Linked DNA regions of Homo sapiens: all the other regions are reported to be linked to region 1. The links are microRNA targets in miRTarBase. Many come from high-throughput screens and were not tested one by one. Region 1 holds a microRNA gene; each other region holds the end of a gene's coding sequence. Distances are from middle to middle.

Region 1 (4,000 bases):
GGATCAACTATCCTACGTCAATAAGTTTTTTCCCGCTGAAAGTAGTTTTGGAGTCCATACCTTCTGATGAATCTATTAATCATTCATATTTCCCTATGAAGATTTAAAAATATTTATTCCTTAAAAGTTCATTAGTTATTTACAAAAGTTGAACACATGCATGCCCTATGACTCAGGAGTTCCATTTCTAGGTTTATACAAAACAGAATTATGTGTCTATCTATATTCACCAAAAGACCTGGACAAAAATGTTCATGGCAGGACTGATAGTCCAAACTGGAATTTTCCAAGTGCCCATCAACAGTAGAATAAGTATATAATTTGTGACATAACCACATAATGAGTATTGAACAGTGATCAGAATGAACAGGTTACAACTACATATAAAAATGCATGGTTCTCACAAATAATATGATGAACAAAAGAAGCCAGACACTAACAGTGTATGATTCCATTTATATGAATTCAAAAGCAGGTAAAACTAATCAATAGTGTCAGAAGTCAGGAGACTGATCACCTTTGTTGGGGGTTTGGGGAAAGTGTTTGACAGAGGGTATGAAGGGGGCTCCTGGGGTGCTAGTAATGTTCTGTCTCTTGGTTTAGGCATTGGTTACATGGGTGGGTTCATTTTGTGAAAAAATTATCAAGTTTATACTTTTTCATTTACATGTTATTCAGAAAGTATATACAAAAAGTATTAAAAGTATTAGCAATTCTGGAAAACACACAGCATTTCACTGTTAACATTTAAAGGATATGTAGAGAACCAGTTGAGCAAATGAACCTTTTATCTTAGAATATATGCTGTCAGAATTATAGGATTATCAAGGTACCATTATGTTACTGGAGCTGTTACAGTCTTAGTCTTATTTGTATTATAAGAAGAATAAAGTAGCTGATGTTAATAATCTGTTGTTATTGTAACCAGGTTTTTGAGATGCCCCAAAGAAGGACATCTTTTCCTTTTGGTCTGTTTTGATTCACCAAGTCAAAACGTTCAGGTATTCTTTTAGTACAGTAAAGAATGATCGGTCAAATAGTTGTGCATTTGGAATATTCATGTGTTTACGAGTGCTGGTATGTGTTCCTTCCCACTGATTGTTACATCAGCAAGTGAGCTGTAGTCTTGGTTGTGTGTGTATTTTACATGTTCTTTTGGCTTTAAGGTATCACTTAACATAACCAGAATGTAGAATTTTCTTCCCAAACAGAGCTCTTTTTGTGATTTTTCTTATTGTCACTTTTGGTTTTTCCAGTGACTTGAGGATAAATCACCTCAGGCATTTATCCTTTATATTACAAACATACAATTATATTCTCTTAGTTATTTTAAAATATACAATTAAATTATTATTGGCTATAGTCACCCTGTTGTGCTATACAATTCTAGGTCTTATTCATTCTTTTAATTATTTTGTGCCCATTAACCATTGCCACTTCCCAATCATTTTTATTGATTGATTAGTTGATTGATTGAGATGGGAGTCTTGCCGTGTGGCACAGGCTGGTCTTGAGCTCCTGGCCTCAAGTGACCCTCCCACTTCAGCCTCCTGAGTAACTGGGACTGATTACAGGTGCAAAATACTACGCCCATCTAATTAAATTTTTTTTTTTGGAGAGACAAGGTCTCACTAGGTTGCCCAGCTGGTCTTGCACTCCTAGCCTCAAGCAATCCTTCCACTATGGCCTGGGATTACAGGCATGAGTCACTGTGCCTGGCCAATAATGTTTCTGATAACCAGTGACTGCTTACTAACTTTCAGGTTGTGTGACATGCCATACATACATGATTTTATTTCATTTATTCTGTGCACCAGTCCTATAAAGTAGGTACTATAATTTCTACTGCTGAAGAAATAAAGACAGGAAGGTTCTATGTAACTTGCTCAAGCTAGTAAGTGATGGAATTAGGAATTCAGGTATATGTCTGCATACTTCCCAGTTGTAACCTCTGTCTCCCCATGCTCCTGAATGCCATGAATAGATTACTCCTTAATCACCAAGTGCATTCCCACCTTTTTCTTAGCCCTTTCACTTTGCAGATCCACTGACTATTAGGCCCTGACTTGTTCCGTTTGTTCCTTTCTCATCATCTCACTCTATCCATCCTTCAAGGCACAGCTCAAGTCCTATCTGTTCAGTGACTTCTTCCTTCTCCTTTCCAATTTATAGAATACTCCTTAGCCCTGCCACACATTTTATACTTCCATTGTGTTGAATCTATCTTTTTATATACGGATGCTTTAGTTTAAACTTCAGATTGTAACCTCCTTGAGGAAAGGGCTTGGATTACAGATTTTACTTGTATTCTCTGCAGTGTCTTATAATAGATGTTCAACAAATGTATATGTTGATCAATTGAAATGATAATAGAACCCTTAATAGCTGAAGATATGTAACGTGCATCTAAGACTCCTGGTTATTTGAGCTTCTTGAAGTACTTTATACATCCAACTAACAGTCTTAATTCAGAACCAGGAATGACATGTTTAGGTTAGAGTTAGATACTGATTTCTAGACAGGAAGCTTAGTAATTGTTGCTACATACTGATCCAAGTAAGAATAGTTCTTTATATCCAGAGCCTGAATGAAAGAGCCAGTGGTGAGACAGTGAGTTGATTACTTCTCACTGTTTCACCACTGGCTCTTTGGTTCATGCTAACAATGTATCTCACCTAGATTATATTAACAGCTTTCTAATTAGTCTCCCTGCTTTTGTTCTTTCTTACCTCTGGTCGTAATTCAGCAGTGGGAATGATGACATCAGGCAGAAGGAGACTTATTCAGTAGCTTCTGATCTCACTCAGTAAAAGACAAAGTTCTTCAAGGGGCCTACAGGTAGTGACAATAAACTGGCTCTCTGGAGGGGGAAAAGGTTCTGATTTGTAGCATTTGCCTGTTTTACTGGTATAATTACTCCCACTCTGGCTGATTCAAAGTTCTAGAATGTACAGCAATCTGCTCCCCAGTCAATATCGGCTTCAGCACATCACTGTTGAACATTTGGCTCCCCGTCTGACTCCCATCTGCTGCCACTTTCCCTCTTGCCCACTCCATTTTGTGATACTGACCTCCTTGCTATTCCTCAAACATGCTGAACATGCACCTACCTCATAGGATTTTTGCACTGCAGTTTTCTATCATTAGAATGCTTTTCTCCTGAATATATACAGGTTTTCTTATTTCTTTTCCCTCTTGAGTCTCTGCTGAAATATTATATTCTCAGTAAGGTCTTCCATGATCTCCTTGCATGAAAATTTTATTTTATTGGTTGTTCTGAGATGATTTTAATATACACTACAGTGTTTTTGTAGTCATCTAGTGCCTTGCTGTAGTGATGCATTACTGCTATTTCTAGGCAATGTCATCTGTGGGTGGGCATAATGGTTATATTTGCTGTTGAGACTTAAAAAGAAGCATTTCATTTTGTTTGAAACGAAAATATCTGTGATACATATAAACAAATCAGTTTGGGCCTCTTATTGGTAATTGCAACTTGAATTACTATCCACTTAGGCTCCTTATGGGGAATGCAACAATATTTATGGTTAAGTGTACATTTGATAGTATATTGTTCTCACAGTAACATCATTGTGGGTTTGAAGATCTGTGCTAAGTTATGAAACAATGGAATTTATACACTTTATTTGAAGATAAATTGGGTTTATAGGGAATTCTTGGTATAAATATTAACGTGTAGATTAGTATAACATACTGTTTATTATAATTAGAAAAAGCTGTGGGCACTTAAATCCCAGCTACTTGGGAGGCTGAGGCAGGAGAATCACTTGAACCCGGGAGGCAGAGATTGCAGTGAGCGGAGATTGCACCTTTGCACTCCAGCCTGGGCAACAAGAGTGAAACTCCATCTCAAAAAAAAAAAAAAAAAAAAAAAAAAAGGTACATGACTTCTTATGAACTAGATGCCACCTTTTCCCCTTAACCTCAGCTGTTTCTTTTTCTTTTCTGTTTTATTAAGGAACTTTAACCTCCCGCTTGA
Region 2 (6,587 bases), not on the chromosome of region 1:
CTGCAGAGGCGCCTGCGGGGAAAGTGGGTTACTAATGACCCTGCTTTGTGCAGCTGGACACGTGCCGAGGTAAGTCAGGCCCCGGCCAGGGCACACCATGGATGACATTCATCTTTTCTGGCACTGACGCTGCCGTCCACAGCCACAGGCGACACCGCACAGCACCTGACACTGCACAGAGGGGCCAGGAGGACGGGTCGAGGCTGACTTCTTTCCCCATATTCCCAGCCCCCCAGGTCCTGGTAAAGAAGGTCCACATGTAATCCCATCACCTTCAACACAGCTTCTGTGTAAAGGAGGGAAGAACCCCATCTATACAGGAGGCTTGTCCAGCACAGCCCCTCCACCACCCCACGCGCAGGGGTGTCCAGTGCAGCCCCTCCACCACCCCACGCGCAGGGGTGTCCAGTGCAGCCCCTCCACCACCCCACGCGCAGGGGTGTCCAGTGCAGCCCCTCCACCACCCCACGCGCAGGGGTGTCCAGTGCAGCCCCTCCACCACCCCACGCGCAGGGGTGTCCAGTGCAGCCCCTCCACCACCCCACGCGCAGGGGTGTCCAGTGCAGCCCCTCCACCACCCCACGCGCAGGGGTGTCCAGTGCAGCCCCTCCACCACACCACGCGCAGGGGTGTCCAGTGCAGCCCCTCCACCATCCCACGCGCAGGGGTGTCCAGTGCAGCCCCTCCACCACCCCACGCACAGGGATGCAGGCTTAGCTCTGAAAATGGCATGGGCAACAAAGGATGCTGGTGATGAACCCCAAAGTCTCTGCATGGCTGCATCCTAACTGTTCCAGCTGTCCAACCAGTCACCTAGAGGTCACTGGGCTGCCTATGGGTAAGAATTGCTGGAGGCAGAGCCTGAGAGACTTGCATGAAGGGGACATGGCCTATGCCCCGGTCGGTGGACAGAGCCGGGCAAGGTGCCCCTAGCCTGTTTCAAAATCCTCAGAAGGGGGATGCTTGCTCTGTTTACAAGGGGTCCTTAAGATAAAACTATGTCCTGTGTTTGAATGTGTGTGCATTTTACAAATAGAAGTACTGTTGATGACGCCCAAACCGTGGCCACACTGATGATGGCCGCACTGGCAATGGCCGCACTGGCGATGGCCACACTGACGATGGCCGCACTGATGATGGCATTGGGTCCCACGTGGTGCTGTCCTGGGGCACACTCGCTTTCTCTAACGGAACCTCTCACCCTGTTCATCTGGAGTTGCTCACCAGATCACACCCTCGCCTTCCTATTCCAGGATATCCCTTCTCCCCCCTCTGTGCTTCTCCACTGGACTAGTCTATCCGCATTCAGAAACACAGATATTTCTCCTTCTTAAAGAGAGAGATCCTCAGCCGGGCGCGGTGGCTCACGTCTGTAATCCCAGCACTTTTGGGAGGCTGAGGTGGGCAGATCACCTGAGGTCAGGAGTTTGAGACCAGCCTGGCCAACAAGGTGAAACCCCATCTCTACAAAAATTAGCCCGGTGTGGTGGCGCATGCCTGTAATCCCAGCTACTCTGGAGGCTGAGGCAGGAGAATTGCTTGAACCTGGGAGGCGGAGGTTGCAGTGAGCCAAAATTGCGCCACTGCACTCCAGCCTGGGCGACAGAGCAAAACTCCGTCTCAATAAAAAAAAAAAAAAAGAAAGAAATAGAAAGCTCCTTGTGGTCACAGGCCCTGGGGGGCTACTCCTCCTGTTGTTTCCTTTACACAGCCCCTCCCGCTCCCAGCTTCCTACCTCTCTTATCCCGTGCCGCTCCTGCAGTTCATGCTGCTCCTGCTGTCCACGCCGCTCCTGCCATCCACCAGCTGCCAGGGGGCCTCCCCAGGGCCATCCACACCTCCATGTCCGTGTCCATCTCCAGCTCGTTCTCCCCCACATCTGACGCCCCATCTGCAGCATTGAGGGTGCCTCAGTCCTTCTCCCGGAAACCAACACTTTGCTTGGCTCCTGGATACCCCATGCCCTGTGCCCTCCCACCCCCAGACTCCTCTGAAGGAGGATTCAGAGGAATCTTCGCCTCCTCTGAAGGAGGATTCAGAGGAATCTTCGCCTCCTCTGAAGGAGGATTCAGAGGAATCTTCGCCTCCTCTGAAGATTCCTCGTCCCAGAGCTCACCTGAACGTCTTCTCTACACGACTTTCCTGTGGTCTTCTGGGGGCCCTGCCATCCGTTCACCATTGAAGGACGCTTGTGTTGCTTCCAGCACTTGGTGATTATGCCTGGGTAGAAATATCTGTGTATAGGTATTTATGCAAACATAAGTTTTATTTTCTGGGGCTGGCATTGGCAAACAGGCCCCAGGCCACATCCATCCACCGCCTGTCTTTGTAAACTCATGGTGTGTGTCTGGCAGGACAACCACAGAGAGGAACATGGACAGTGACTGTGGCCCTCAAAGTCTAAAATGTTTACTTTCCAGATCCTTTCTCGAAAAGGATCCAGGGTAAAGACGTGAGGGCTGACTGGTGTGGTGAGTGTGTGTTAAACTCATGAGAAGCCAGCCACCGGGTGCACAGTGGCCTCACCATTGCACACACACAACGCACACACACTGGCGGCTGTGTGCCAATCAAAGGCAGTAAACCATCCAAACTCTAAACTTCAGTCCTCACCTGTTCAGTGGCTTCCGTCTCAAAAAGGCAGGACCTCCAGTTCCCCATGGCTGGGCCTCCTGCCTCATTCCCATGCCAGCCCAGCTGCCTCCCTACCTGATCCACTCACCCAGGTGCCACCCCACCCCAACCCTGGGCCTTGGCTCACGCATCGCCTTCTCAGAGAGCCTCGCTCCCACAGCGCTCCCTGGCCCCTCCTCTACACTCCCCTGTGGCATCTGTCCCCATGTCACCTGATGGCCCACAGGAGCACTCACTCCAGGGGAGCTGAGACTTGCCCTAATCACAGCTGTGGCTGCAGCAACAGCAGGATCTAGAAGTGTGGGTACACAGTAGGCACTCAATTTATGTTTGTTAAACAAACACATTTTCTTTCAAGTGACAGCAACTGAAGGGAGGACTGACATTACAATGCCACACATTCCTCACACGTGCAGGTTTTACCTGGAAGCAGAAATGCTGGAGGGTCTGCAACACACCTGTCTCTGTCCACCCCCACTCCCCACCAGCACACCCCTCCCCAAGGCCCCCCGTACCAGCTTGCCCCTCCCCATGCCCCCCCCACCAGCACGCCCCTCCCCACGGTCCCACCCACCTGTGTGCCCCTCCCCACTCCCCACCCCCCACCCACCAGTGCGCCCCTCCCCACTCCCCACCCACCAGCGTGCCCCTCCCCATGGCCTCCCCACCAGCGTGCCTCTCCCCACGGCCCCACCCACCTGCATTCCCCTCCCCACTCCTCATCCACCTGTGCACCCCTCCCCATGGCCCCCCAACCAGCATGCCTCTCCCCATGGCCCCCCCACCTGCACGCCCCTCCTGACTCCCCACCTGCGCACCCCTCCCCACGGCCTCCCCACCAGCGTGCCCCTCCCCACAGCCCCACCCACCTGCATTCCCCTCCCCACTCCTCACCCACCTATGCACCCCTCCCCACGGCCCCCCAACCAGCGTGCCCCTCCCCACAGCCCCACCCACCTGCATTCCCCTCCCCACTCCTCACCCACCTGTGCACCCCTCCCCACGGCCCCCCAACCAGCGTGCCTCTTCCCACGGCCCCCCGACCTGCGTTCCCCTCCCCACTCCCCACTCACCTGCTTGCCTCTCCCAACAGCCCCACCCAGCTGTGCACCCCTCCCTACAGCCCCCACCTGTGGACCCCCCCATACTTGTCCCCTCGCCCAGGACCCCACCTTTTCACCTCTCCCCCTATGGCCTCCACTTCGCTGTGAACTCTCATCTATGAAAGGAAAATCCAGGATGCGGCCCTCTGGGTGCAGAGCGTCCTTAGCAGCACGGTACACCTACTGGCGGGGGCGCTGCAGCAGGAACGTGTCCTTTTTGCAGGTCGGGCAAGACTTGTCCTAGAATCGTCAAACCCCAGAGCTGATGGGCCTGTGAGCTCAGCCCATCCTTCCCCATCATTACAGATGAGGTGATCGGGGCAGCAGAGCGCAGAAGTGGCCCCTGCGGGGACACCTGGCCAGGTGGAGGCCTAAGGGAGATGGAGCCCAGAGTCCAGGGCCCAGGTGGCTTCTCCAGTGGGAACACGCACCAGACACAGAGAACAGACCCCGCACACCCAAAGGAACCACGAACAGAGGCTGCGAGGTCAGTGTTTGAGGATTCCTAAGGATAAGCACTGATGAGTGTAGGAGCCTGTGAGGGGTCCCCGACAACTGAGACGCGGGAGCCCAACCCCAAGCTCCGAGGTGAGGGAGGACGGCACCTCCAAGGCCACCAGTGCGTGCGCGTGGGGAGGAGGCCCTGCCCGGCTCACAAGGTGGGCAGGACACAGCACAGGATGGGCTGCAGAGACCAGGGGAGGCCCAGGGCGGGCAGAGCCTGCGTCTACAGCAGTGAAAATGCATCACACCAGCTCAGCCCAGGGCGCGAGCCAGGTGCCCACCAGCAGCCAGCATGGCTCCCGGGAGTTCCATGCTAGGGCGGCGTAGACAGCACACGTCTGTCCATCTGCATTTTCCCTGGGTCAGGAAAGAGAAAATGGACAAAGACCCAGGAGATGGGGTCACAGGGCAGAGCTCCTGAAAGAATGAGCCGAGCACCTGTGCAGCGTGGATTTATTTTATTTCATTTTTTACTCTCAAGAGAAAGAAGAGTTACTATTGCAGGAACAGACATTTTTTTAAAAAGCGAAACTCCTGACACCCTTAAAACAGAAAACATTGTTATTCACATAATAATGTGGGGCTCTGTCTCTGCCGACAGGGGCTGGGTTCGGGCATTAGCTGTGCCGTCGACAATAGCCCCATTCACCCCATTCATAAATGCTGCTGCTACAGGAAGGGAACAGCGGCTCTCCCAGAGAGGGATCCACCTGGAACACGAGTCACCTCCAAAGAGCTGCGACTGTTTGAGAATCTGCCAAGAGGAAAACCACTCAATGGGACCTGGATAACCCAGGCCCGGGAGTCATAGCAGGATGTGGTACTTCAGGGCCCTGGGCACCCTGTTGATCACGAGCCTCCCGTCATAGCTCAGGGAGGCAAACAGCCACGGGTCAGCCGAGGACCAGTCCACGGCATAGACGCTGTCCTCGTGCTCCTCGTAGGTGGCGATCACGTTGTCCTGCAGGGGCTCCTTGCTCCTGCAATGCAACAGAGGCAGACGTGAGCGCAGCAGCTCCGGCGGGGCGGGCAGGAGAGGGGCAGGGAGGACGCGAGCGCTGACATCGGGAGACACGGGAGGTACTGGGGCCTCAGCTTTCTCCGCTGTGGGATGGGAAGAATTAGAGGAGCCCACACCGAGGACGGTGGGGTGGTCCCTGCAGAAGCCCAGAAACCCTCACTGTCACTGTGAGGAGTGGGCATTTCTCAAAAGGTTTATGGAAATCGGCGACATTGGCACATGGTGTCTTGGTTTCTTCTGTCCTTGGCCCCCGGGTGCCTGGGTTGATATTTTGTTGGAGGTCTTCCAAGGGCTTCCTTTAGCTCAGGGGAAAGACTGGGGGAAGTAGTCACCGTGTCTGGGTAACACAGGATGTAAACGCCCCTATTGCTTGAGCAGAAAGGACCCTGGGAAGCAGCGGGTCCAGCTCCTGGCTGTGTAGGAGTCAGAGGCTGGGGCACAAGGAGCCTTGCTAGGATGGGAGTGGGGCTGGGCTGAGGATCCCCCAGGACACCAAGAGGAAGACGCCCTGGCCCTGTGGGAGCAGCAGAGGCGTGACCTGCCTGGCCTCCCCCAGGGTGTTTCCCACCTCGCCTCCCTTGACTGTGAGTTACCCTCACTGGGAGCCCTGACCAGGGGATCCTCACACAAGAAGCACCACTTCCTCAGCACAGCGTGCATGGGGAGGGGGCCCTGCCCGGCTCACAGCGGCCACTTTCCGGTGGACACAGGCTTCTCTGGCACTTTACTTCCCATTTCACAAAAAAATTCCCACATAATTTGTGTACCGCATTCTAACTGCTTTTGCATTTCTTTGTAGGAAAATGCTTCACCCCCCCAGCAAGACGGACCCTCCAGAACTCGCATGGTCTCTGGGAAGCTGGCTTCCCACAAAGTGGACCTGCCAGTGGTCAACTGCTGTTGTGGGACAAATGCCAGGTGCAAATCCTTAGGAGGAATCATGGTTTCCTGAATGCAGCAGGACATCAGGACTGAGGGATGTCCTAAGAAGTCTGCGTAGCCCCGATCACCTCCTCCCTTCCTATCTTGCTCCCATGACATTGCCGCCCAGAAGACAACGCCAGCAGTCTTCCGACCAACGGGCCCATCAGGCTCCTCCCCTAACAGGGACAGACATGGTGAGGAAGTGCAGACTCCCTGGGCCACTGGCAGAGAGGACGGTAAAGGGAGCCAGGCCCACAGGCACCGAGAGACCACTGGGCAGATGCTACCGTGCGTGTGCTTAAATACTATTCTATGGCAGACCGAGTTTCTAAGGTTTGAACAGAAAAACAACAGAGTCTGGCTCATGCCTGTAATCCTAGCACTTTGGGAGGCTGAAGTGG
Region 3 (6,587 bases), not on the chromosome of region 1:
AGTTTAATTAGATCCCATTTGTCAATTTTGGCTTTTGTTGCCATTGCTTTTGGTGTTTTAGACATGAAGTCCTTGCCCATGCCTATGTCCTGAATGGTATTGCCTAGGTTTTCTTCTAGGGTTTTTATGGTTTTAGGTCTAACATTTAAGTCTTTAATCCATCTTGAATTTTTTTATAAGGTGTAAGGAAGGGATCCAGTTTCAGCTTTCTACATATGGCTAGCCAGTTTTCCCAGAACCATTTCTTAAATAGGGAATCATTTCCCCATTTCTTGTTTTTGTCAGGTTTGTCAAAGATCAGATGGTTGTAGATGTGTGGGATTATTTCTGAGGGCCCTATTCTGTTCCATTGGTCTATATCTCTGTTTTGGCACCAGTACCATGCTGTTTTGGTTACTGTAGCCTTGTAGTATAGTTTGAAGTCAGGTAGCATGATGCCTCCAGCTTTGTTCTTTTGGCTTAGGATTGACTTGGCAATGTGGGCTCTTTTTTGGTTCCATATGAACTTAAGTAGTTTTTTCCAATTCTGTGAAGAAAGTCATTGGTAGCTTGATGGGGACGGCATTGAATCTATGAATTACCTTGGGCAGTATGGCCATTTTCACGATATCGATTCTTCCTATCCATGAGCATGGAATGTTCTTCCATTTGTTTGTGTCCTCTTTTATTTCATTGAGCACTGGTTTGTAGTTCTTGAAGAGGTCCTTCACATCCCTTGTAAGTTGGATTCCTAGGTATTTTATTCTCTTTGAAGCAATTGTGAATGGGAGTTCACTCATGATTTGGCTGTTTGTCTGTTATTGGTGTATAAGAATGCTTGTGATTTTTGCACATTGATTTTGTATCCTGAGACTTTGCTGAAGTTGCTTATCAGCTTAATGAAACTGAAGAATGCTAAAGACAAGAAGGAACCAAAGAGAAAAGACAAATTACAAGAAAAAAAATTGATAACAATTATATGGATAACAGAATACAGCAGCAACAAGAGAATTCAAAAGACAAATTGTACCTTCTAGTGATTGAAATAAAATAACAGTTAACCTAGGATTTCATAGCTAGCTAAATGATCATCAAAAAATAAGAATGAAATAGAGATATTTTCAGACACATGAGAATTGTGGAAGTTTACCTTCAGCAGACACTCACTGAAAAAAATTATTTTTAGGAATGCATTTCAAGAAGAAGAAAATTGATACCACAAATAGGGAGATATGCAAGAAAGACACTATCTCTGCCTGGAGTCAGCTCTGATTCATAATGGGTGCTCAAAAATTGTTAGAAAACTAATACTTTTTTTTATATATGACTTGAAATTAAAATATGGTTATTGCAGCACAAATTTTAGAATGTAAAGAGTGTATCACAATTTAAAAATAATTATCAGATTTTGAATTTTTTTAGAAAAACTACAAATAAGACCAAATAAAATTTCTTTTTTTTTAAAAAAAAAGTATTCAGACTTACAATTTGTTTATAAAAAAGTTATTCTTCATAGTGTATTTGATACTAAGAATCAGAATTTGTCCAACACGGAAGGAAAAAAACAATGCAGTTGTGTTTTCTATGTATTAAATTGACTCTTCAGTTTTAGTCTTTCTTAATCTAAATAGCTCTGTATGCTGAAGAAATAGAAAACGTGCAGTAAGAACAAACCATCTCGGAGATTGAATATGAGGACAGCAGAATTCATTTGAGTGAATACTTTATCTACCTGAACATTTTGATGTACTTAGCCTTGTTGATGTAAATAATAAGGAATAGGATATATTTGATCAAATCCTAAAATCCTAAAATTTGAAAGATTGTTAGAGAAAACCTCCCATCCAGTGGATGAATTTTTTCATAGACTTTTTGATAGCAGAAAATCCTCCCACTTCTGCTTCAGTTCCTCTCTGTTCAGGATGTAAATGTAAGGGTTATGAGGTCTATGCACATGTGTTTCTGTATCAGAAGTTACAGTTGTGCAAAGCTTCAACACTGGCTTTTTCTCCACAGATTGCTAGTGCAACTACTGCTCCATCGATCCCTTCACATTTGTCTCCTGGTTTACGAGATGTGGCTCTTCGTTGTTTAGAACTTCAACCTCAGGACAGACCTCCATCAAGAGAGCTACTGAAGCATCCAGTCTTTCGTACTACATGGTAGCCAATTATGCAGATCAACTACAGTAGAAACAGGATGCTCAACAAGAGAAAAAAAACTTGTGGGGAACCACATTGATATTCTACTGGCCATGATGCCACTGAACAGCTATGAACGAGGCCAGTGGGGAACCCTTACCTAAGTATGTGATTGACAAATCATGATCTGTACCTAAGCTCAGTATGCAAAAGCCCAAACTAGTGCAGAAACTGTAAACTGTGCCTTTCAAAGAACTGGCCCTAGGTGAACAGGAAAACAATGAAGTTTGCATGACTAAATTGCAGAAGCATAATTTTATTTTTTTGGAGCACTTTTTCAGCAATATTAGCGGCTGAGGGGCTCAGGATCTATTTTAATATTTCAATTATTCTTCCATTTCATATAGTGATCACAAGCAGGGGGTTCTGCAATTCCGTTCAAATTTTTTGTCACTGGCTATAAAATCAGTATCTGCCTCTTTTAGGTCAGAGTATGCTATGAGTAGCAATACATACATATATTTTTAAAAGTTGATACTTCTTTATGACCCACAGTTGACCTTTATTTTCTTAAATACCAGGGCAGTTGTGGCTCATTGTGCATTTTACTGTTGGCCCATTCATTTCGTTTTTGGAAATTATGGTTTTGTATTTTCATGTTTATTTACATTCATTTTTGTTTATTCAGGGAAAGCTGATCTTTTTTTCAAACCAGAAAAAAAAAATGAACTAGATATGAAGTAGAGTTCATTAAATATCTTGCTATTGTCAGAGTTTTTAAAATATAGACTTAATTTTGTTTTTTTAAATTGGAATACAATAAAGTACTACCTACATTTGAGTCAGTCACCACTCTTATTGTGCAGGTTAAGTACAAGTTAACTAAAAATAAACTGTCCTCTCTGGTGCAACTCACAACCAAGATCAAGATTACCTTAAAATTTATTTGAATTTTTTAGATGTTTTGGTTGTCAAACTGTAGGAAACTTCACAACATTTAAGTCTTACTCTGTATGTAACAATCCATCATTCACCTTCACTACTGGTAGTAACATAGAGCTGCCATTTTCCTTTTACCATGCATCATCTCTTTACAGTAGGCCTGGCAGATCATTTTTTAAAAAGATTATTCAACTACCAATCAGTAATGTTTTTAAACAGTACATTTGCTTTGAACTTGGAAAATGTGTTCAGAAAGAAAAATGGAATTGAATTTCATTTATACACTAATTCCTTGGATTTTGCACAGTTACCTAACGGTTTTAGTCTGGAGTTAAATTCAGATGCATGGAATCCTGAAGGAAAATGGTAGCTTTTTAATCTTTTTGTGTGTGTGTGAGTCTTTTAAATCAAGTACTGATTAACTATTAAGTACAACTTTGAGATTTTAGTTTTAACTCTTCAGAAGCCAGTGTGAAATAGAATTGGTTATTCTCAAAGACTCAGGATAAACTAAATAAGCTATATATAGAGTACATTTAAAATGTACAACACAAATTGGAAATAAAATAAGTTACAAGATAAGTTTACAGGGATATATTGCTTACAATTTTTAAAAGGCAGTTTGTTTTTTATGTGAATATGTTTCTTAGTGAAATTTTACATTCCTTTGTTTTGGAAGATTGGCGATATTTGAAGAGTTAAAAATAGTACAGAAATGTGAAGTTTGGTATCTCTAAATGTGTTGTACTTGACTTTCTTTTTTATTTTGTTTTTTTTTTTTTTTGACTACTTAGAATTTTCACAATTCTAATAAGATTGTTTCCAAGTCTCTCATGTGCAAGCTTTAAAGGATGCACTCTTGCCATTTTATGTACTGGAAGATCATTGGTCAGATGAATACTGTGTCTGACAAAAATGTAAACTGTATAAACTGAGGAACCTCAGCTAATCAGTATTACTTTGTAGATCACCATGCCCACCACATTTCAAACTCAAACTATCTGTAGATTTCAAAATCCATTGTGTTTGAGTTTGTTTGCAGTTCCCTCAGCTTGCTGGTAATTGTGGTGTTTTGTTTTTTGTTTTGTTTTCAATGCAAATGTGATGTAATATTCTTATTTTCTTTGGATCAAAGCTGGACTGGAAATTGTATCGTGTAATTATTTTTGTGTTCTTAATGTTATTTGGTACTCAAGTTGTAAATAACGTCTACTACTGTTTATTCCAGTTTCTACTACCTCAGGTGTCCTATAGATTTTTCTTCTACCAAAGTTCACTTTCACAATGAAATTATATTTGCTGTGTGACTATGATTCCTAAGATTTCCAGGGCTTAAGGGCTAACTTCTATTAGCACCTTACTGTGTAAGCAAATGTTACAAAAAAAAAAAAAAAAAATCTCTGGGTTAAGAAAATTTGGCTTAAATGTATCCTTTGTTATTTTAAATATATTGAGATATTTTAATTAAAATTTTTACCCCATTGAACCGATTTTATAGTATTTGTACCTATTTTGGTGTTTTTGTCTTTATAGTAAATAAAAGTTTTTGAACAAATGTTGTTACTTTTATTTATTTTGAAATAATTTCATACTTATATAAAAGTTGCAAGAATACCACAGAGAACTTCTGTATACCCTTCACCCAAAGACCCCAGTCAGGTTTCACCAGCTGCCCATTTATGTCCTTTATAGCAAGAGGATCCAAACCAGGATCACATGTTGCTCTCAGTTGTCATGTTTCTTCAGTCTCATTGAATCCAGGGCCATTCCTTAGTTCTTCCTTGACCTTAATGGCCTTAATTTTTTAAAGATTTCAGATTATTGTTTTATAGAAGCTCTTCAAATTGAGTTTGTCTGGTGCTGCTTCTTGATTAGATTCAGAGTATGCACTTTTGGCAGGAACATCACAGAGGTGATGCTGTGCTCCTCTCGGTGTGTCATGTCAGGAGGCATAGAGGTCGTTTGCCCCATCACTGGTGATAACTGATAGTAACACTGTATAGTTAGTCTTTCCTTTTATAATTAAAATCCACCTTTATAATTGGAAGTATTCTTTGGGGGTGATATTAGAGACTACATAAATATGATGTTTCTTGCCCAGTTTTAACTCTGCTCTTAGCTTTTTTGCCTGAATATATTACTCTGATGGTTGCCAAATGGTGATGTAGTTCCTTCACTTTTTCTTTGCAACATTTTGCTGCAAAGAAGAGCTTTCCCTTCTCCCATTTATTTATCATGTATCATCATATATTTGCTCAACTTGTTGCGGATTTGCCCAGTGGGAATGTCTGAGAGCTAGCTTCTCTATCCTTGGCAAGCCACCATTATTCTTTGAACACTTCCATACTTTCAGCCCCATCTTACGCAATGTCTCCTTTGGCCCTGGAATCAGCCATTTTCCCAAAGAGCCCTGATTCCTTTGATAGAGAATGGTATGTTTAAAACCAACATCTGGGTGCTAGATAGGCTCAATTCTACTGGATGTCACCACTCCTTGGCTGTCTTGGTAGAGCTAGAATGTATTTATGAATATGCACAGTTCGGTGCACACTTGCAAAGTACGCATACATATACCTACCTACATACATAAAAACCATGAGCTCACACCAACCTTCCAACTGCAATCCAACACCAACAGGGTTCATTCAAGCTTTCCCTTTTTCCAAATTTGTAACTTTCTTCTCAGGCAGTGAGAATCATGACTGATTATTCCCAACATATTGACTTACTTGCTTAATTCTTCCTCATGTCCCTCCCCCATGTAACCGATCTCCATGCAAAATGGTTAATGTTGCTGAGTTCAGAAGCCATTTTGTTTCTCTACATTGGTTTCAAGTTTCTGTATAATTTGATTTGTTGTTTTTTTTGTTTTTTTTTTTTTTTTTTTTTTTGAGACAGTCTCACTCTGTTGTCCACGTTGAAGTGCAGTGGCACAATCTCAGCTCACTAAAGGCTCTGCCTCCCAGGTTCAAAGGATGCTCCTGCCTCAGCCTCCCGAGTAGCTGGGATTACAGGTGGACACCACCATGCCTGTCTAATTCTTGTATTTTTAGTAGAGACAAGGTTTCACCATGTTGGCCAGGCTGGTCTCGAATTCCTGACCTCAGGTGAACCACCTGCCTCGGCCTCCCAAAGTATAATTTGATTTTAAATGTAAGTCTTTTAAATAGGTTTTGGGTATTTTTTGCAAAAGGGTACATTTCTGTCACTTAAAAATATTAAGTTGGAGAAAAGTTTTTTTTCCAGATGAAGTAATAGAACCAATTCTATTGCTCCTTAATTCTATTTAAATGATATTAATAATTTTATAAAATGGGTGACAGTCTTCATGTCAGAATCCAGAAAAATGTTGGGGTATTGTGCTCATAGAAATGCCAATGATTGCATTTATGAGCTGATGTAAGTCATTTGTTATAAAACAATGCATGAAATAACTACAGTGAGGGAAAACTGACTAATGGAAACTTATACAAATTGCTGTCTTTCTATGTCATGACGTGGTTTGGCCGTTTTAAATTATACTAT
Region 4 (4,000 bases), 43 Mb from region 1:
TCCTAATGGAAGAGCAAGCAGTAAGCATTGGCCAGACGCTTTATCAAAAGTATCTGGTTCTAACCCAGGTTCATGGTTTCTTCCCATAAAACTACAAGTCAGTGAATGTAAGTCTCAGTGGTAAAATCTTGGTCAGCTTTGGTGAGTGGGTCAGCCAGTGGGGAGTCGGGGGGAGAGAGAGTGTAAAGTATACTGTGGTAGAATGAAGACATGCAGTGGATGATAATGAAACCATTCTTCCTTACAGGGTAATTATGAAAAAGAAGGTCTCGGTGCTTCCAGCCACATAACCACAAAATCAATGGCTGCTCCTCCAAGCTGTGGTCTGAGCCCACTGCTGGTCCTGGTGGTAACCGCTCTGTCCACCCTATTATCTTTAACAGAAACATCATAGCTGCATTAAAAAAATACAATATGGACATGTAAAAAGACAAAAACCAAGTTATCTGTTTCCTGTTCTCTTGTATAGCTGAAATTCCAGTTTAGGAGCTCAGTTGAGAAACAGTTCCATTCAACTGGAACATTTTTTTTTTTTCCTTTTAAGAAAGCTTCTTGTGATCCTTTGGGGCTTCTGTGAAAAACCTGATGCAGTGCTCCATCCAAACTCAGAAGGCTTTGGGATATGCTGTATTTTAAAGGGACAGTTTGTAACTTGGGCTGTAAAGCAAACTGGGGCTGTGTTTTCGATGATGATGATGATCATGATGATGATCATCATGATCATGATGATGATCATCATGATCATGATGATGATTTTAACAGTTTTACTTCTGGCCTTTCCTAGCTAGAGAAGGAGTTAATATTTCTAAGGTAACTCCCATATCTCCTTTAATGACATTGATTTCTAATGATATAAATTTCAGCCTACATTGATGCCAAGCTTTTTTGCCACAAAGAAGATTCTTACCAAGAGTGGGCTTTGTGGAAACAGCTGGTACTGATGTTCACCTTTATATATGTACTAGCATTTTCCACGCTGATGTTTATGTACTGTAAACAGTTCTGCACTCTTGTACAAAAGAAAAAACACCTGTCACATCCAAATATAGTATCTGTCTTTTCGTCAAAATAGAGAGTGGGGAATGAGTGTGCCGATTCAATACCTCAATCCCTGAACGACACTCTCCTAATCCTAAGCCTTACCTGAGTGAGAAGCCCTTTACCTAACAAAAGTCCAATATAGCTGAAATGTCGCTCTAATACTCTTTACACATATGAGGTTATATGTAGAAAAAAATTTTACTACTAAATGATTTCAACTATTGGCTTTCTATATTTTGAAAGTAATGATATTGTCTCATTTTTTTACTGATGGTTTAATACAAAATACACAGAGCTTCTTTCCCCTCATAAGTAGTGTTCGCTCTGATATGAACTTCACAAATACAGCTCATCAAAAGCAGACTCTGAGAAGCCTCGTGCTGTAGCAGAAAGTTCTGCATCATGTGACTGTGGACAGGCAGGAGGAAACAGAACAGACAAGCATTGTCTTTTGTCATTGCTCGAAGTGCAAGCGTGCATACCTGTGGAGGGAACTGGTGGCTGCTTGTAAATGTTCTGCAGCATCTCTTGACACACTTGTCATGACACAATCCAGTACCTTGGTTTTCAGGTTATCTGACAAAGGCAGCTTTGATTGGGACATGGAGGCATGGGCAGGTTCTCCTTTCTTTGGAAACACATCCATGCTGGGATGCACAGTTCTTTTCCTAAGGATTGTGTTTACTCCTGACTGCAACGTCTTGGCCACTGTTTGGAGCAGTTTGGTCTGAAGGTCATTAAGGATCTGCTTGCATCTTGTTTCATGTCCTCCGTGACAGACTGCAGACCATGTTAGAAGAGAAGGAAGGTTTGTGGATCAAGAGGGTTGACATTAGGTTTGGTGAGATGAGTTGCTTGGCACAGATCAGCAGAACAGGACCCTGGTGATAAGGCATCTGGCTTTGCTAACCACTTATCATCTTCCATTATTCTCTTTCTTAACTAAGTAGACCCGAAAGTGCACTTTTGAAGTCTGGTTTAGATGGCGAGATTCCGAATCTACAATGATCGAGTACTGGTGGCCACTTTTCTCCAACATTAAGTAAAGAGGAGGAGATTCCACCTTCAGAAAGTGCTGGGAAGCATTGGCTTTCTTCCCACATTGGTAGAAGAGATGGAGGAGGAAACCAGGGTGCACATTTCTACAGATCCCCTTTGCCTGCTGGTGTTTGCCTTGTAAGATAAGTCACTGGGGGGAAGGGGAAATCTATGAAATCCAAGATAAAGGCATAGTCTTTCAGCTCTATTGGTGTTAAAAGTATATTTGTGTCCAAATGTTAATCAACACAAATGTACAGTACTCAGTACTGACTTTTTTCACTTCAAAATGTTTTCAAGGGAAATTCAGCAGACACCCAACTGTATTTAATTAGTGAAAAGATCTATAAAGACTCTTACTTTGAATAAACACATTAAGTAAGTGTGTCAAAATATTTGGAATGCCAGTTATCTATGAGCGCATATCTCTTACAGAGTGTATTTTGTTTTCATTAAGGTATCTCTGTGTATCTACACTGGACTAATTTCATAGGGATCTGATTCTATGTGATCCACTGTAGAAAGCTACTGATTACTTCTGCAGTAACAGCAGCTCTAATTAGCATCAGATGACCAAAGCGGAAATGGGAGTTTCAGCGCTAACAAGGGCAGCCTTCATTGAAGAATGCATGGGTAGGCAATATATAAATTACATTTTGAAAAGCCTCATCTGTCACCAACAAATATCTCATTTTTCTTCAGTGATAAAAGCATATTCAAGTTACCAGCTCCTCAATTTGAAAATCAGTTGCTGATTAAATAAATAGGGGGAAGCATCTTGTTCAGGGACAACACGTTAGAGAGATTCTTATCAAAGCAAGCCAAGCAAGGTTTCCGCCATTCAGTGTGATCTTAGTTTGACACGGTGACCCTAAAACACCATCATTTGCCCCAGAACTGGAGCACAATAAGTTAAATCATTTACCTGTCTCACTTCTTCTTGGCGTGCTTAAAAGCAAAAATGATTCGCTACTTCCTGTCCTTCAGTCCGGGCATTTGGGGTGCCACTGAAGACAGGGGTTATCTGCTGAGGTTTGGGTGTCTTGCAGGAAGTATCTCATTGCAGTTGATTTTGATGAAACCAAACAGTAACTAGGGTCCATGCAGACCGTGACTCCCTGATTACATCTAGCCATGCCCTACTTATTTCAGAGAGAAAGAGAGGGGGAATAAAGGCAGTATTGCCACACTGATTAGAAGCACATTCATTCCACTTTGATGTTGAATATTTTTGACCGATACATGCTTGAGTATCTTTTTAATAGAGCACATGAAGGAAGAAGCACACAATATAGAGAAGGAATTGAGAATGCCAATTACATATTTATTTTTCCATACCTGATTTTTTTCAAGTCTGTAATAAAAAAAGTATAAGTTGAGATTAACATAGGTTATTTTTCATGAAGTATAGCAAACGATCTAGAATGTGATAGGAGTGTGGTTTCCATTTCTTTTTTTTTTTTTTTAACAGACTTTTGTGCTGTAGTAAGAATGTCTTAGAAGTTGTGTCTTCGAGTTCCTCAAACACCGGACAGGGCTCCCCCAGAGCTGCCTCAGCCTTTGATTTGGTCCATATTCAGACACTTCCTGTCTTGCATACACTCTGAGGATGGGCCGCTTCTAGCTGCCGCCCGTCTCCCTCTTGCCTTCTTGTCTCTAAATCAGACACTCCCAAGCACTCCATCTGCTATACTAGGAGAGTGGGAGAGCCAAAGCATTTTGGAGTCCATGTAAAGTGCCTGGGAAAAGAGATGTAAGAGCAGTGGGAGTTTATATAATTAGCGAATTCTTTTCTCAGAATTCAGCGGAAATGTATTTCTGTTGTTATTATTTACAAAATTGTGGCCTCAGAGGAGCTGTCTTTTGGAAAATAAGTTTTCATTCATGCAGTTAGTTAGACATGCACGATGTACTTGAATCA
Region 5 (6,587 bases), not on the chromosome of region 1:
AAGAGACACAGGAGGTCACTTATAATAATAAGGAAGTCATTTCAGCAAGAGGCTATAATAGTTTAAAATGTCTATGCACACAACACAAGAGCTCCCAAGTATATAAAGCAAACATTAATAGATCTAAAGGGAGAGACAGATTGCAATATAATAATACTGAGGAACTTCAACACCTCACTCTCAATAATGGACAGATCCTCCAGACAGAAAATTGACAAGGAAACACTGGAGTTAAAGTACACCATAGATCACATAGGCCAAACTGATATTCACAGAATATTTCACCCAACTGTTATAAAATACACATTGTTTTCATTAACACATGGCACGTTCTCCAGAATAGGCTATATCTAGGCCACAAAACAAGTCTCAATAAATTCAAAACAGTAGAAATCATATCAAGTATTTTTTATGACCACCATGGAATGACACTAGAAACTGATAACCTGAGGGTCTCAGAAAATGCACAAACACATGGAAATTAAATAACAAGCTCGTGAATGACCAATGAAGTAATTAAGAAAAAAAGTATAAAATTTCTTGAAACAAATGTAAATGGAGATACAACATTCCCAAATCTATACTATACAGCAGAAGCAGTACTGAGATGGAAGTTTGTAGCAATAAACACCTATATCAAAAAAGTAGAAAGACTTCAAATAAACAACCTAATGGTGTACCTCAAAGAACTAGAAAAGCAGGAACAAACGGAGCCTAAACCTAGTAGAAGGAAAGAGATAATAAAGATCAGAGCCAAAAAACAAAAAACAAACAAACAAAAAAGGAGATTTAAAAAACCAGATCAATGAAAGAAAAAACTGGTGTTTTTAGAAGACAAAGAAAATCAGCAAACCATTAGCCAGACTAAGAAATAACAAAGAGAAGGCCAAATAAATAAAATGAGACATGGAAAAGGATACATAATAACCGAGACCACACAAATACAAAGACTCATTAGAGAGTATTATGAAAAACTCTTTGCCAACAAATTGGAAAACCTAGAAGAAATGGTTAAATTCCTGGACACATACAACCTAGCAAGATTGAACCATGAAGAAATAGAAAACTTCAACAAATCAATAGGGAGTAACAAGATCAAAATTATAATAAAAAGTCTTCCATCAAAGAAAAGCCCAGTACCTGATGGCTTTACCCCTGAATCTACAAACATTTGAAGAGACAGTAATACCAGTTCTGCTCTAATTCTTCAAAAAAAAAAAAAAAAAAGAAAAAGAAAAAAAGAAAAATTGAAGAGGAGGGAATACTTCCAAACTCATTCTACAAAGTAGTATTTCCATGACACCAAAACCAGAGAAGGGCACAACAAAAAAACAAAACTACAGGCCAGCATCACTGATGAGCCAGATACAAAAATCTTCAACAAAATACTAGCAAACCAAATTCAACAACGATGTTTAGCAGCATCCCTGGCCTCTGACCACCGGATGCCAGAAGTACCACCAGTTTTGACAATCAAAAATATCTCCAGGCATTCCTAAATACCCTGCGTTGGAGGAAGGTGGCTAAATCACACCTCCCTCTCCGCCGCCCCCCACCATTTTAGCACCACTGTATTAGATCACCTATAAGTTATAATATATGTTATGTAACATTACGCCAGAGATTATATACCCTGAGGCCGCTTTGGAAATTTCAGGAGAAGGCAGTTTGGTCACTTAGTTGGATGTTATAGAGGTGATAGCCTAATATTCTGTAAATCTTATAAATACATTTTTCTTCAATGCCTGCAAGAAAGAAGTAAAAAATGGAGACAGGCTGGAAAAAAATCAAGCTCTTGCATGTGAGAGCTACAGGCAACTTTAGGGCAGCCACAGGAATAAGAAAGAATATATTAAAAAAAGGGAGGAATTTAGGCCTTACCCTCACAGACCTGAGCCATAGCTGGGAAATTGTTACCCTTTTAAATCTAAGCCACCAGTGACAACCTGAGCTCAGGACTGAGTGGAGGGCACGGTCTACCACAGGGACCATGCTAGAAAAGTAAGTTTTTCAAAGAATATTTTTGGTGGCAGGGCAGGGCCATAGGCTCCTGTGAGTTAAATGACTGAGAACAGAAAAATATAACAGTATTCCACTAGATGGTGCTATATCTGATTAATTTATCAAGCATGTCCAAATTAGGTCTTACCTGACCCTGTCTTTTCCAGCATATTTTCCTCAGTCCTTTTTGCAATAATTTGAATTCAACCATACTTAAAATGAAAGATATTTGCAAATTTAAAAAATTCCATTCTAGCTAATCTCCATTACTGATTCAAAATACATGCATTTCCAGTCTAAACAACTTGGCACTATTAAGTCAGGCTCAGGTTCAAAAGGCACAAAGTTCATAGCAAAATGTCTGTTCCTTGTTTCAATTTTAATTAATGCCATAGCTAGCAGATTTAATAACACTTCTATTGTTAAGTACAAGCAAAACTGATATAAAAATCTCTTAACTTTCACTTCTTTAACATTCTGCTGGCTGATATAGTCAGAGATGAGTTTTGTGCCTATCCTTGGAAGTCAGAAATATTAAAAAAAAAAAAAAAAAAAAACAAGAGTTTAGGATATCAAAATGCTTTACAGACCTCTGAAATATAACAGTGTGCCCCAAAAGATAGCCACTTGACTTGGAGGTCTGGTAACATACCATTTAGAAAAGGAAATTGCCGGTCACGGTGGCTCACGCCTGTAATCCCAGCACTTTGGGAGGCCGAGGTGGGCAGATCACTTGAAGTCAGGAGTTCGAGACCAGCCTGGCCAACATGGTGAAACCCCCGTCTCTACTAAAAATACACAAATTAGCTGTGTGTGGTGGCGCGGGCCTGTAGTCCCAGCTGCTCGGGAGGCTGAGGCGGGAGGATTGCTTGAACCCAGGAGGTGGAGGTTGTAGTGAGCAGAGATCGCGCCACTGAACTACAGCCTGGGCTACAAAGCAAGACTCCGTTTCAAAAATGAAAAATAAAAAAGAAAAGACAAGGAACTTAGTTACTGGGTGGAGTGCTTTCTGACATTTGAGGAGTTCAAGGTGGAAGGATTGCTTGAGCTCATGAGTTCAAAACCAGCCTGGGCAACAAAGTGAGAACACTGTTTCAAAAAAAAAAAAAAAAATAGAGAACTTGGTCATTATACATCAAGGTAACTGGGTGGGTAACCTCATGTCAAAATAGGAAGTACTAAGGGCATATTTAAGCAATTATCTAATAATTGAAAAGTTGTGAGGTCACAATCTACTGAAATTTATAATCACTTGGAGAAAAAAGATACAGGTAACCTTATCTTTTATAACTTCTTTTTTTGGAAACAAGGTCTCACTCTGTCCCCCAGGCTGGAGTGCACTGGCAACATCACAGCTCACTGTAGCCTCCACCTCGCTATCCTCCCACCTCAGGCTCCTGGGTTACTGGGACTACAGGTGTGCACTACCACGCTGGGCTAATTTTTTTTCTTCCGTATTTTATAAAGATGGGGTCTTGCCATGTTGGCCAGGCTGGTCTCGAACTCCTGGGCTCAAGTATCTGTCTGTCTCAGCCTCCCAAACCATTGGGACTACAGGCGTGAGCCACCATGCCCAGCCATGTTCTCTAACTTTTAAAGTCAGTCTAACAGTATGTGTGAGCCAAGGGAAAGAATTTCACTGCAGTTGTTACAAGTAATAGTTTTTTGATTTGTTTATGTTTTTGTTTCAGGAAGACAGACATTGTTGACTCTCGGCAGAGCTGGTCTTAGTTGTGTAGCAAAATAGATAAGGGACTCTTGGGGGAGGATGGGAGTGGTAGTCAGTAACATGTAGGGCGTTTGGGGCAGGGGATTACTGCATTACATTCAGCTCCACATCTCATTTAAAACATGGTCAGAAGAAATGAAGTCAAGTAAAATGGTCTCGAAAGTGGCTGGTATTAGGCAGAAGACAGGCAAAGTACAAGTCAAAGATAGAAGTGGAAGGAAAATGGAAAGAAAAAAGGAATATCTGTGGTGGGCCTTACCCTCATGTGTTACCCACATGCCTCTATTAATCAATGAAAATTTTAACACGTCATACACATGGTTTCACGTATTTTCCATCAAAATAGTTGAGAGAGAGGAGGGGTAAGTAAAAGTGAGCTAGCCAGGATAGTGGGTGGCAAAATTCCACTTCACAGTTTTGCCTGGGTCAAGGCTTGACTAGAAAGTCTATTTACTTTAGAACTCTCACTAAAAAATTATTCTTTTTCTTAGTATAGGACATGCATCTTGGTAAAAATCCTTATTAAACAATAACAACTAATTTAAAAATTTAAAGACCATGCGAAGCAACATGTAGGATGGTGGAGAAGAACGCTGCACACTTCAGCCAATAGTTTGCACAACTGTCAGACCACTGTTAGAGCTAGCTGTAAGTTCAGTCTCATCGATGTACTTCAGATTTCCCAAGGGTCTAAATCTCCTCTGTCCTAGAGAGAAATACTTCTTAAATTGTCATGTGTCCTTCCTTTGGCTCCTTTCTATCCCCACCAAGTTAACAGGATTCTGTGAAAAAATTTCCTCAGTAAAACACATTTGGAAAACACTACATACTATATCCCTTTCTTAGAGATTTCTGGTGCACATGAGCATGTTAAAAGGGCATCAAAATATCTGAGAGGTTCTGAGGAAGAAAAACTGAACCCAGCATTTTCCAATTCAAACCCCACTCCCAGTTCTCCCCTTTTGCCACCAGGAATACCTATTAGCTTTTCATGGGTCACTAGTATTTTCTAGTAGAGTGATTGGAAAATGCTATTCCAATAAAATAAAAGTATTATGACATTTTCTTGCCACATTGAAAGGACTGAAGATTTAAAAGACTTACCAAAAGGATCTATTTAATATCCTGAGAGTTAAGATTTTTGCTTAAATTTGGCTTCTTGGTACAGTTGTTTAGCTTTTGCCCTATCATTCTCCTAATTGAAACATCATCCGTATTGGGAAATAATTGTTTTGTTACTCCTGTAAAAAACCAATAGCGACACATGAGAAACTTCATGAGTGCTTTGCATCTTAGGGTATGAACTGAGGTAAAACATCAAGTATTCTACATTATAATTTTTTTTCCATTTTACAAAAGTAGCCCAAACACCCATGAGCTATTTAAACAGATGAATATATAGGCAGGTTTTTCTAAGTAAAGCAAGAGATATCAGAAGGTCTATATTATCAACTGAGATCCTATGGTAGTGATTAACTTTAATCCTCCTACTTGCTTTAAACTCTAAGTCCTCTTGCTCTAAAATGTTAGGAATGTATTTTTATCCATTTCCAACATTAATTGAAACAACTAAACTCTGACTGATCTTTTTCTGTATCTGTCTGCCTCAGCCTCCCAAACCATTGGGATTACAGGCATGAGCCACCACGCCCAGCCATGTTCTCTAACTTTTAAAGTCAGTCTAACAGCATGTGTGAGCCAAGGGAAAGAATTTCATTGCAGTTGTTAGAAGTAGCAGTTTTTTGTTTCAGGAAGACAGACATTGTTGTATGTTAAGAAATGACATATATAGAGCTAGGATTCAGAGAATCCTTACATTTGTCAGATGTTGCCAAAAAATTAATTGGATAATCTAGATTATATTTAAGGAGATTCATTAATTTAAAAACCATAAATAGGATGGTCAAATTAGCCTTTATCTTTCTGGAATGAAAGATAAGACATATAACAAAAGCAAGGAAGAAATTGTTATTGAAATTTTACTTTAAAAGATTGTGAAAATTTACATTTCCAAAGCTATAAATTGTATGAATTGAAACCTTTTGGTGATATAAAACTTAGTTTCATTTTAATAACCATTGTTAATGTAAAGTTTTTCTATAAAATTTCCCATATTTAATGAGAGCTTTAGACTATCCTAAGATTTTTCTTTCCCAGAAAAATAAACTTTAAAAAATAAAAGGACCATGAAAGACTATCTTGACCTTGAGTGGTAACATGATTTAAAATTCATACGACAATATAACGCAATCATATTATCACCTATGATTTCTTGGACTTCATTCTGATTCATAGCTGGTTTTACAGCTTTGTCCCTTGAAGTAGAGGATTTTGCCCCTGTCAGGCTGTGAGTGGCCATGTATTCATTTGTGTAAAGTACTTGCATTAAATCATTAATAAACTTCTGAGGCTTGCTCTTGTTACAACGGGCAATCTGCCATTTTTCAATCTGGAACTAAAAAGATAAGAAAGAGTTGAAGTTGGAAAAAGAAAGTGCTGTATGGAGAAATATGTTACTAATTGAGTTAAGGCATAAAAGAAAACAATGTCAACATTTTTTAAGGTAAGATATTATATATATATTTTAATATATATTTTACATTTTAATTTAATATATATTTTACATGTCAGGGATTAGATTTAAATGTTATCTTTGTGATACTCTTCAATATTTATGAGGTATTTGTTATAGGGTGTATACAAATTCTTGTCATGTAAACTGGATTTGGTCCTTTCAGGCTTAGTCCCATACTCAGTGCTTCATCGTAAATGTAGTAGGCAGAATAATGGCCCTCTGAAAGGTCACATCCTAATCCCTGAAACCTATAACACGTTGCCTCACAGGGCAAAAACAATT

The links. The annotated mature microRNA hsa-miR-4676-3p reads CACUGUUUCACCACUGGCUCUU and lies in region 1 at 2,628-2,649, shown strand. An mRNA with a match to its seed (bases 2 to 7 or 8) in the 3' UTR can be bound and repressed. Matches are read on the target gene's strand: a 7mer-m8 pairs with bases 2 to 8, a 7mer-A1 pairs with bases 2 to 7 and ends in A, and an 8mer does both.
Region 2: the mRNA of EIPR1 is a reported target of hsa-miR-4676-3p. Seed matches in the 3' UTR shown: 7mer-m8 at 4,983-4,989.
Region 3: miRTarBase lists MAP3K1 as a target of hsa-miR-4676-3p. Seed matches in the 3' UTR shown: 8mer at 3,276-3,283.
Region 4: the mRNA of GFRA1 is a reported target of hsa-miR-4676-3p. Seed matches in the 3' UTR shown: 7mer-m8 at 500-506, 7mer-m8 at 995-1,001 and 8mer at 3,163-3,170.
Region 5: miRTarBase lists BEND6 as a target of hsa-miR-4676-3p. The part of its 3' UTR that is shown has no 7-base or 8-base seed match.

Annotation. Positions count from the first base shown.
Region 1 is chr10:72,718,445-72,722,444 of GRCh38, forward strand. It overlaps MIR4676 (microRNA 4676), which reads left to right and starts at 2,585; the gene lies at 2,585-2,656. All of the region lies in intron 1 of MCU (mitochondrial calcium uniporter), which reads left to right.
Region 2 is chr2:3,184,288-3,190,874 of GRCh38, forward strand. EIPR1 (EARP complex and GARP complex interacting protein 1) reads right to left here. Exons shown (of 9, transcript NM_003310.5): 9 at 4,683-5,221. The coding sequence ends at 5,047. LOC107985840 (a long non-coding RNA gene) reads right to left here and starts at 3,081. Exons shown (of 4, transcript XR_001739257.1): 1 at 2,117-3,081; 2 at 1,736-1,891.
Region 3 is chr5:56,891,536-56,898,122 of GRCh38, forward strand. MAP3K1 (mitogen-activated protein kinase kinase kinase 1) reads left to right here. Exons shown (of 20, transcript NM_005921.2): 20 at 1,996-4,617. The coding sequence ends at 2,145. It overlaps LOC105378980 (a long non-coding RNA gene), which reads right to left. Exons shown (of 3, transcript XR_948347.4): 3 at 4,902-5,045. Among named protein-coding and RNA genes, the nearest start is that of SETD9, 15 kb to the right of the region's middle.
Region 4 is chr10:116,060,792-116,064,791 of GRCh38, reverse strand. It overlaps GFRA1 (GDNF family receptor alpha 1), which reads left to right. Exons shown (of 11, transcript NM_005264.8): 11 at 248-4,000. The coding sequence ends at 394. Among named protein-coding and RNA genes, the nearest start is that of SNORD158, 130 kb to the left of the region's middle.
Region 5 is chr6:57,016,805-57,023,391 of GRCh38, reverse strand. BEND6 (BEN domain containing 6) reads right to left here. Exons shown (of 7, transcript NM_152731.3): 5 at 5,993-6,185; 6 at 4,835-4,971. The coding sequence ends at 4,844. Among named protein-coding and RNA genes, the nearest start is that of KIAA1586, 27 kb to the left of the region's middle.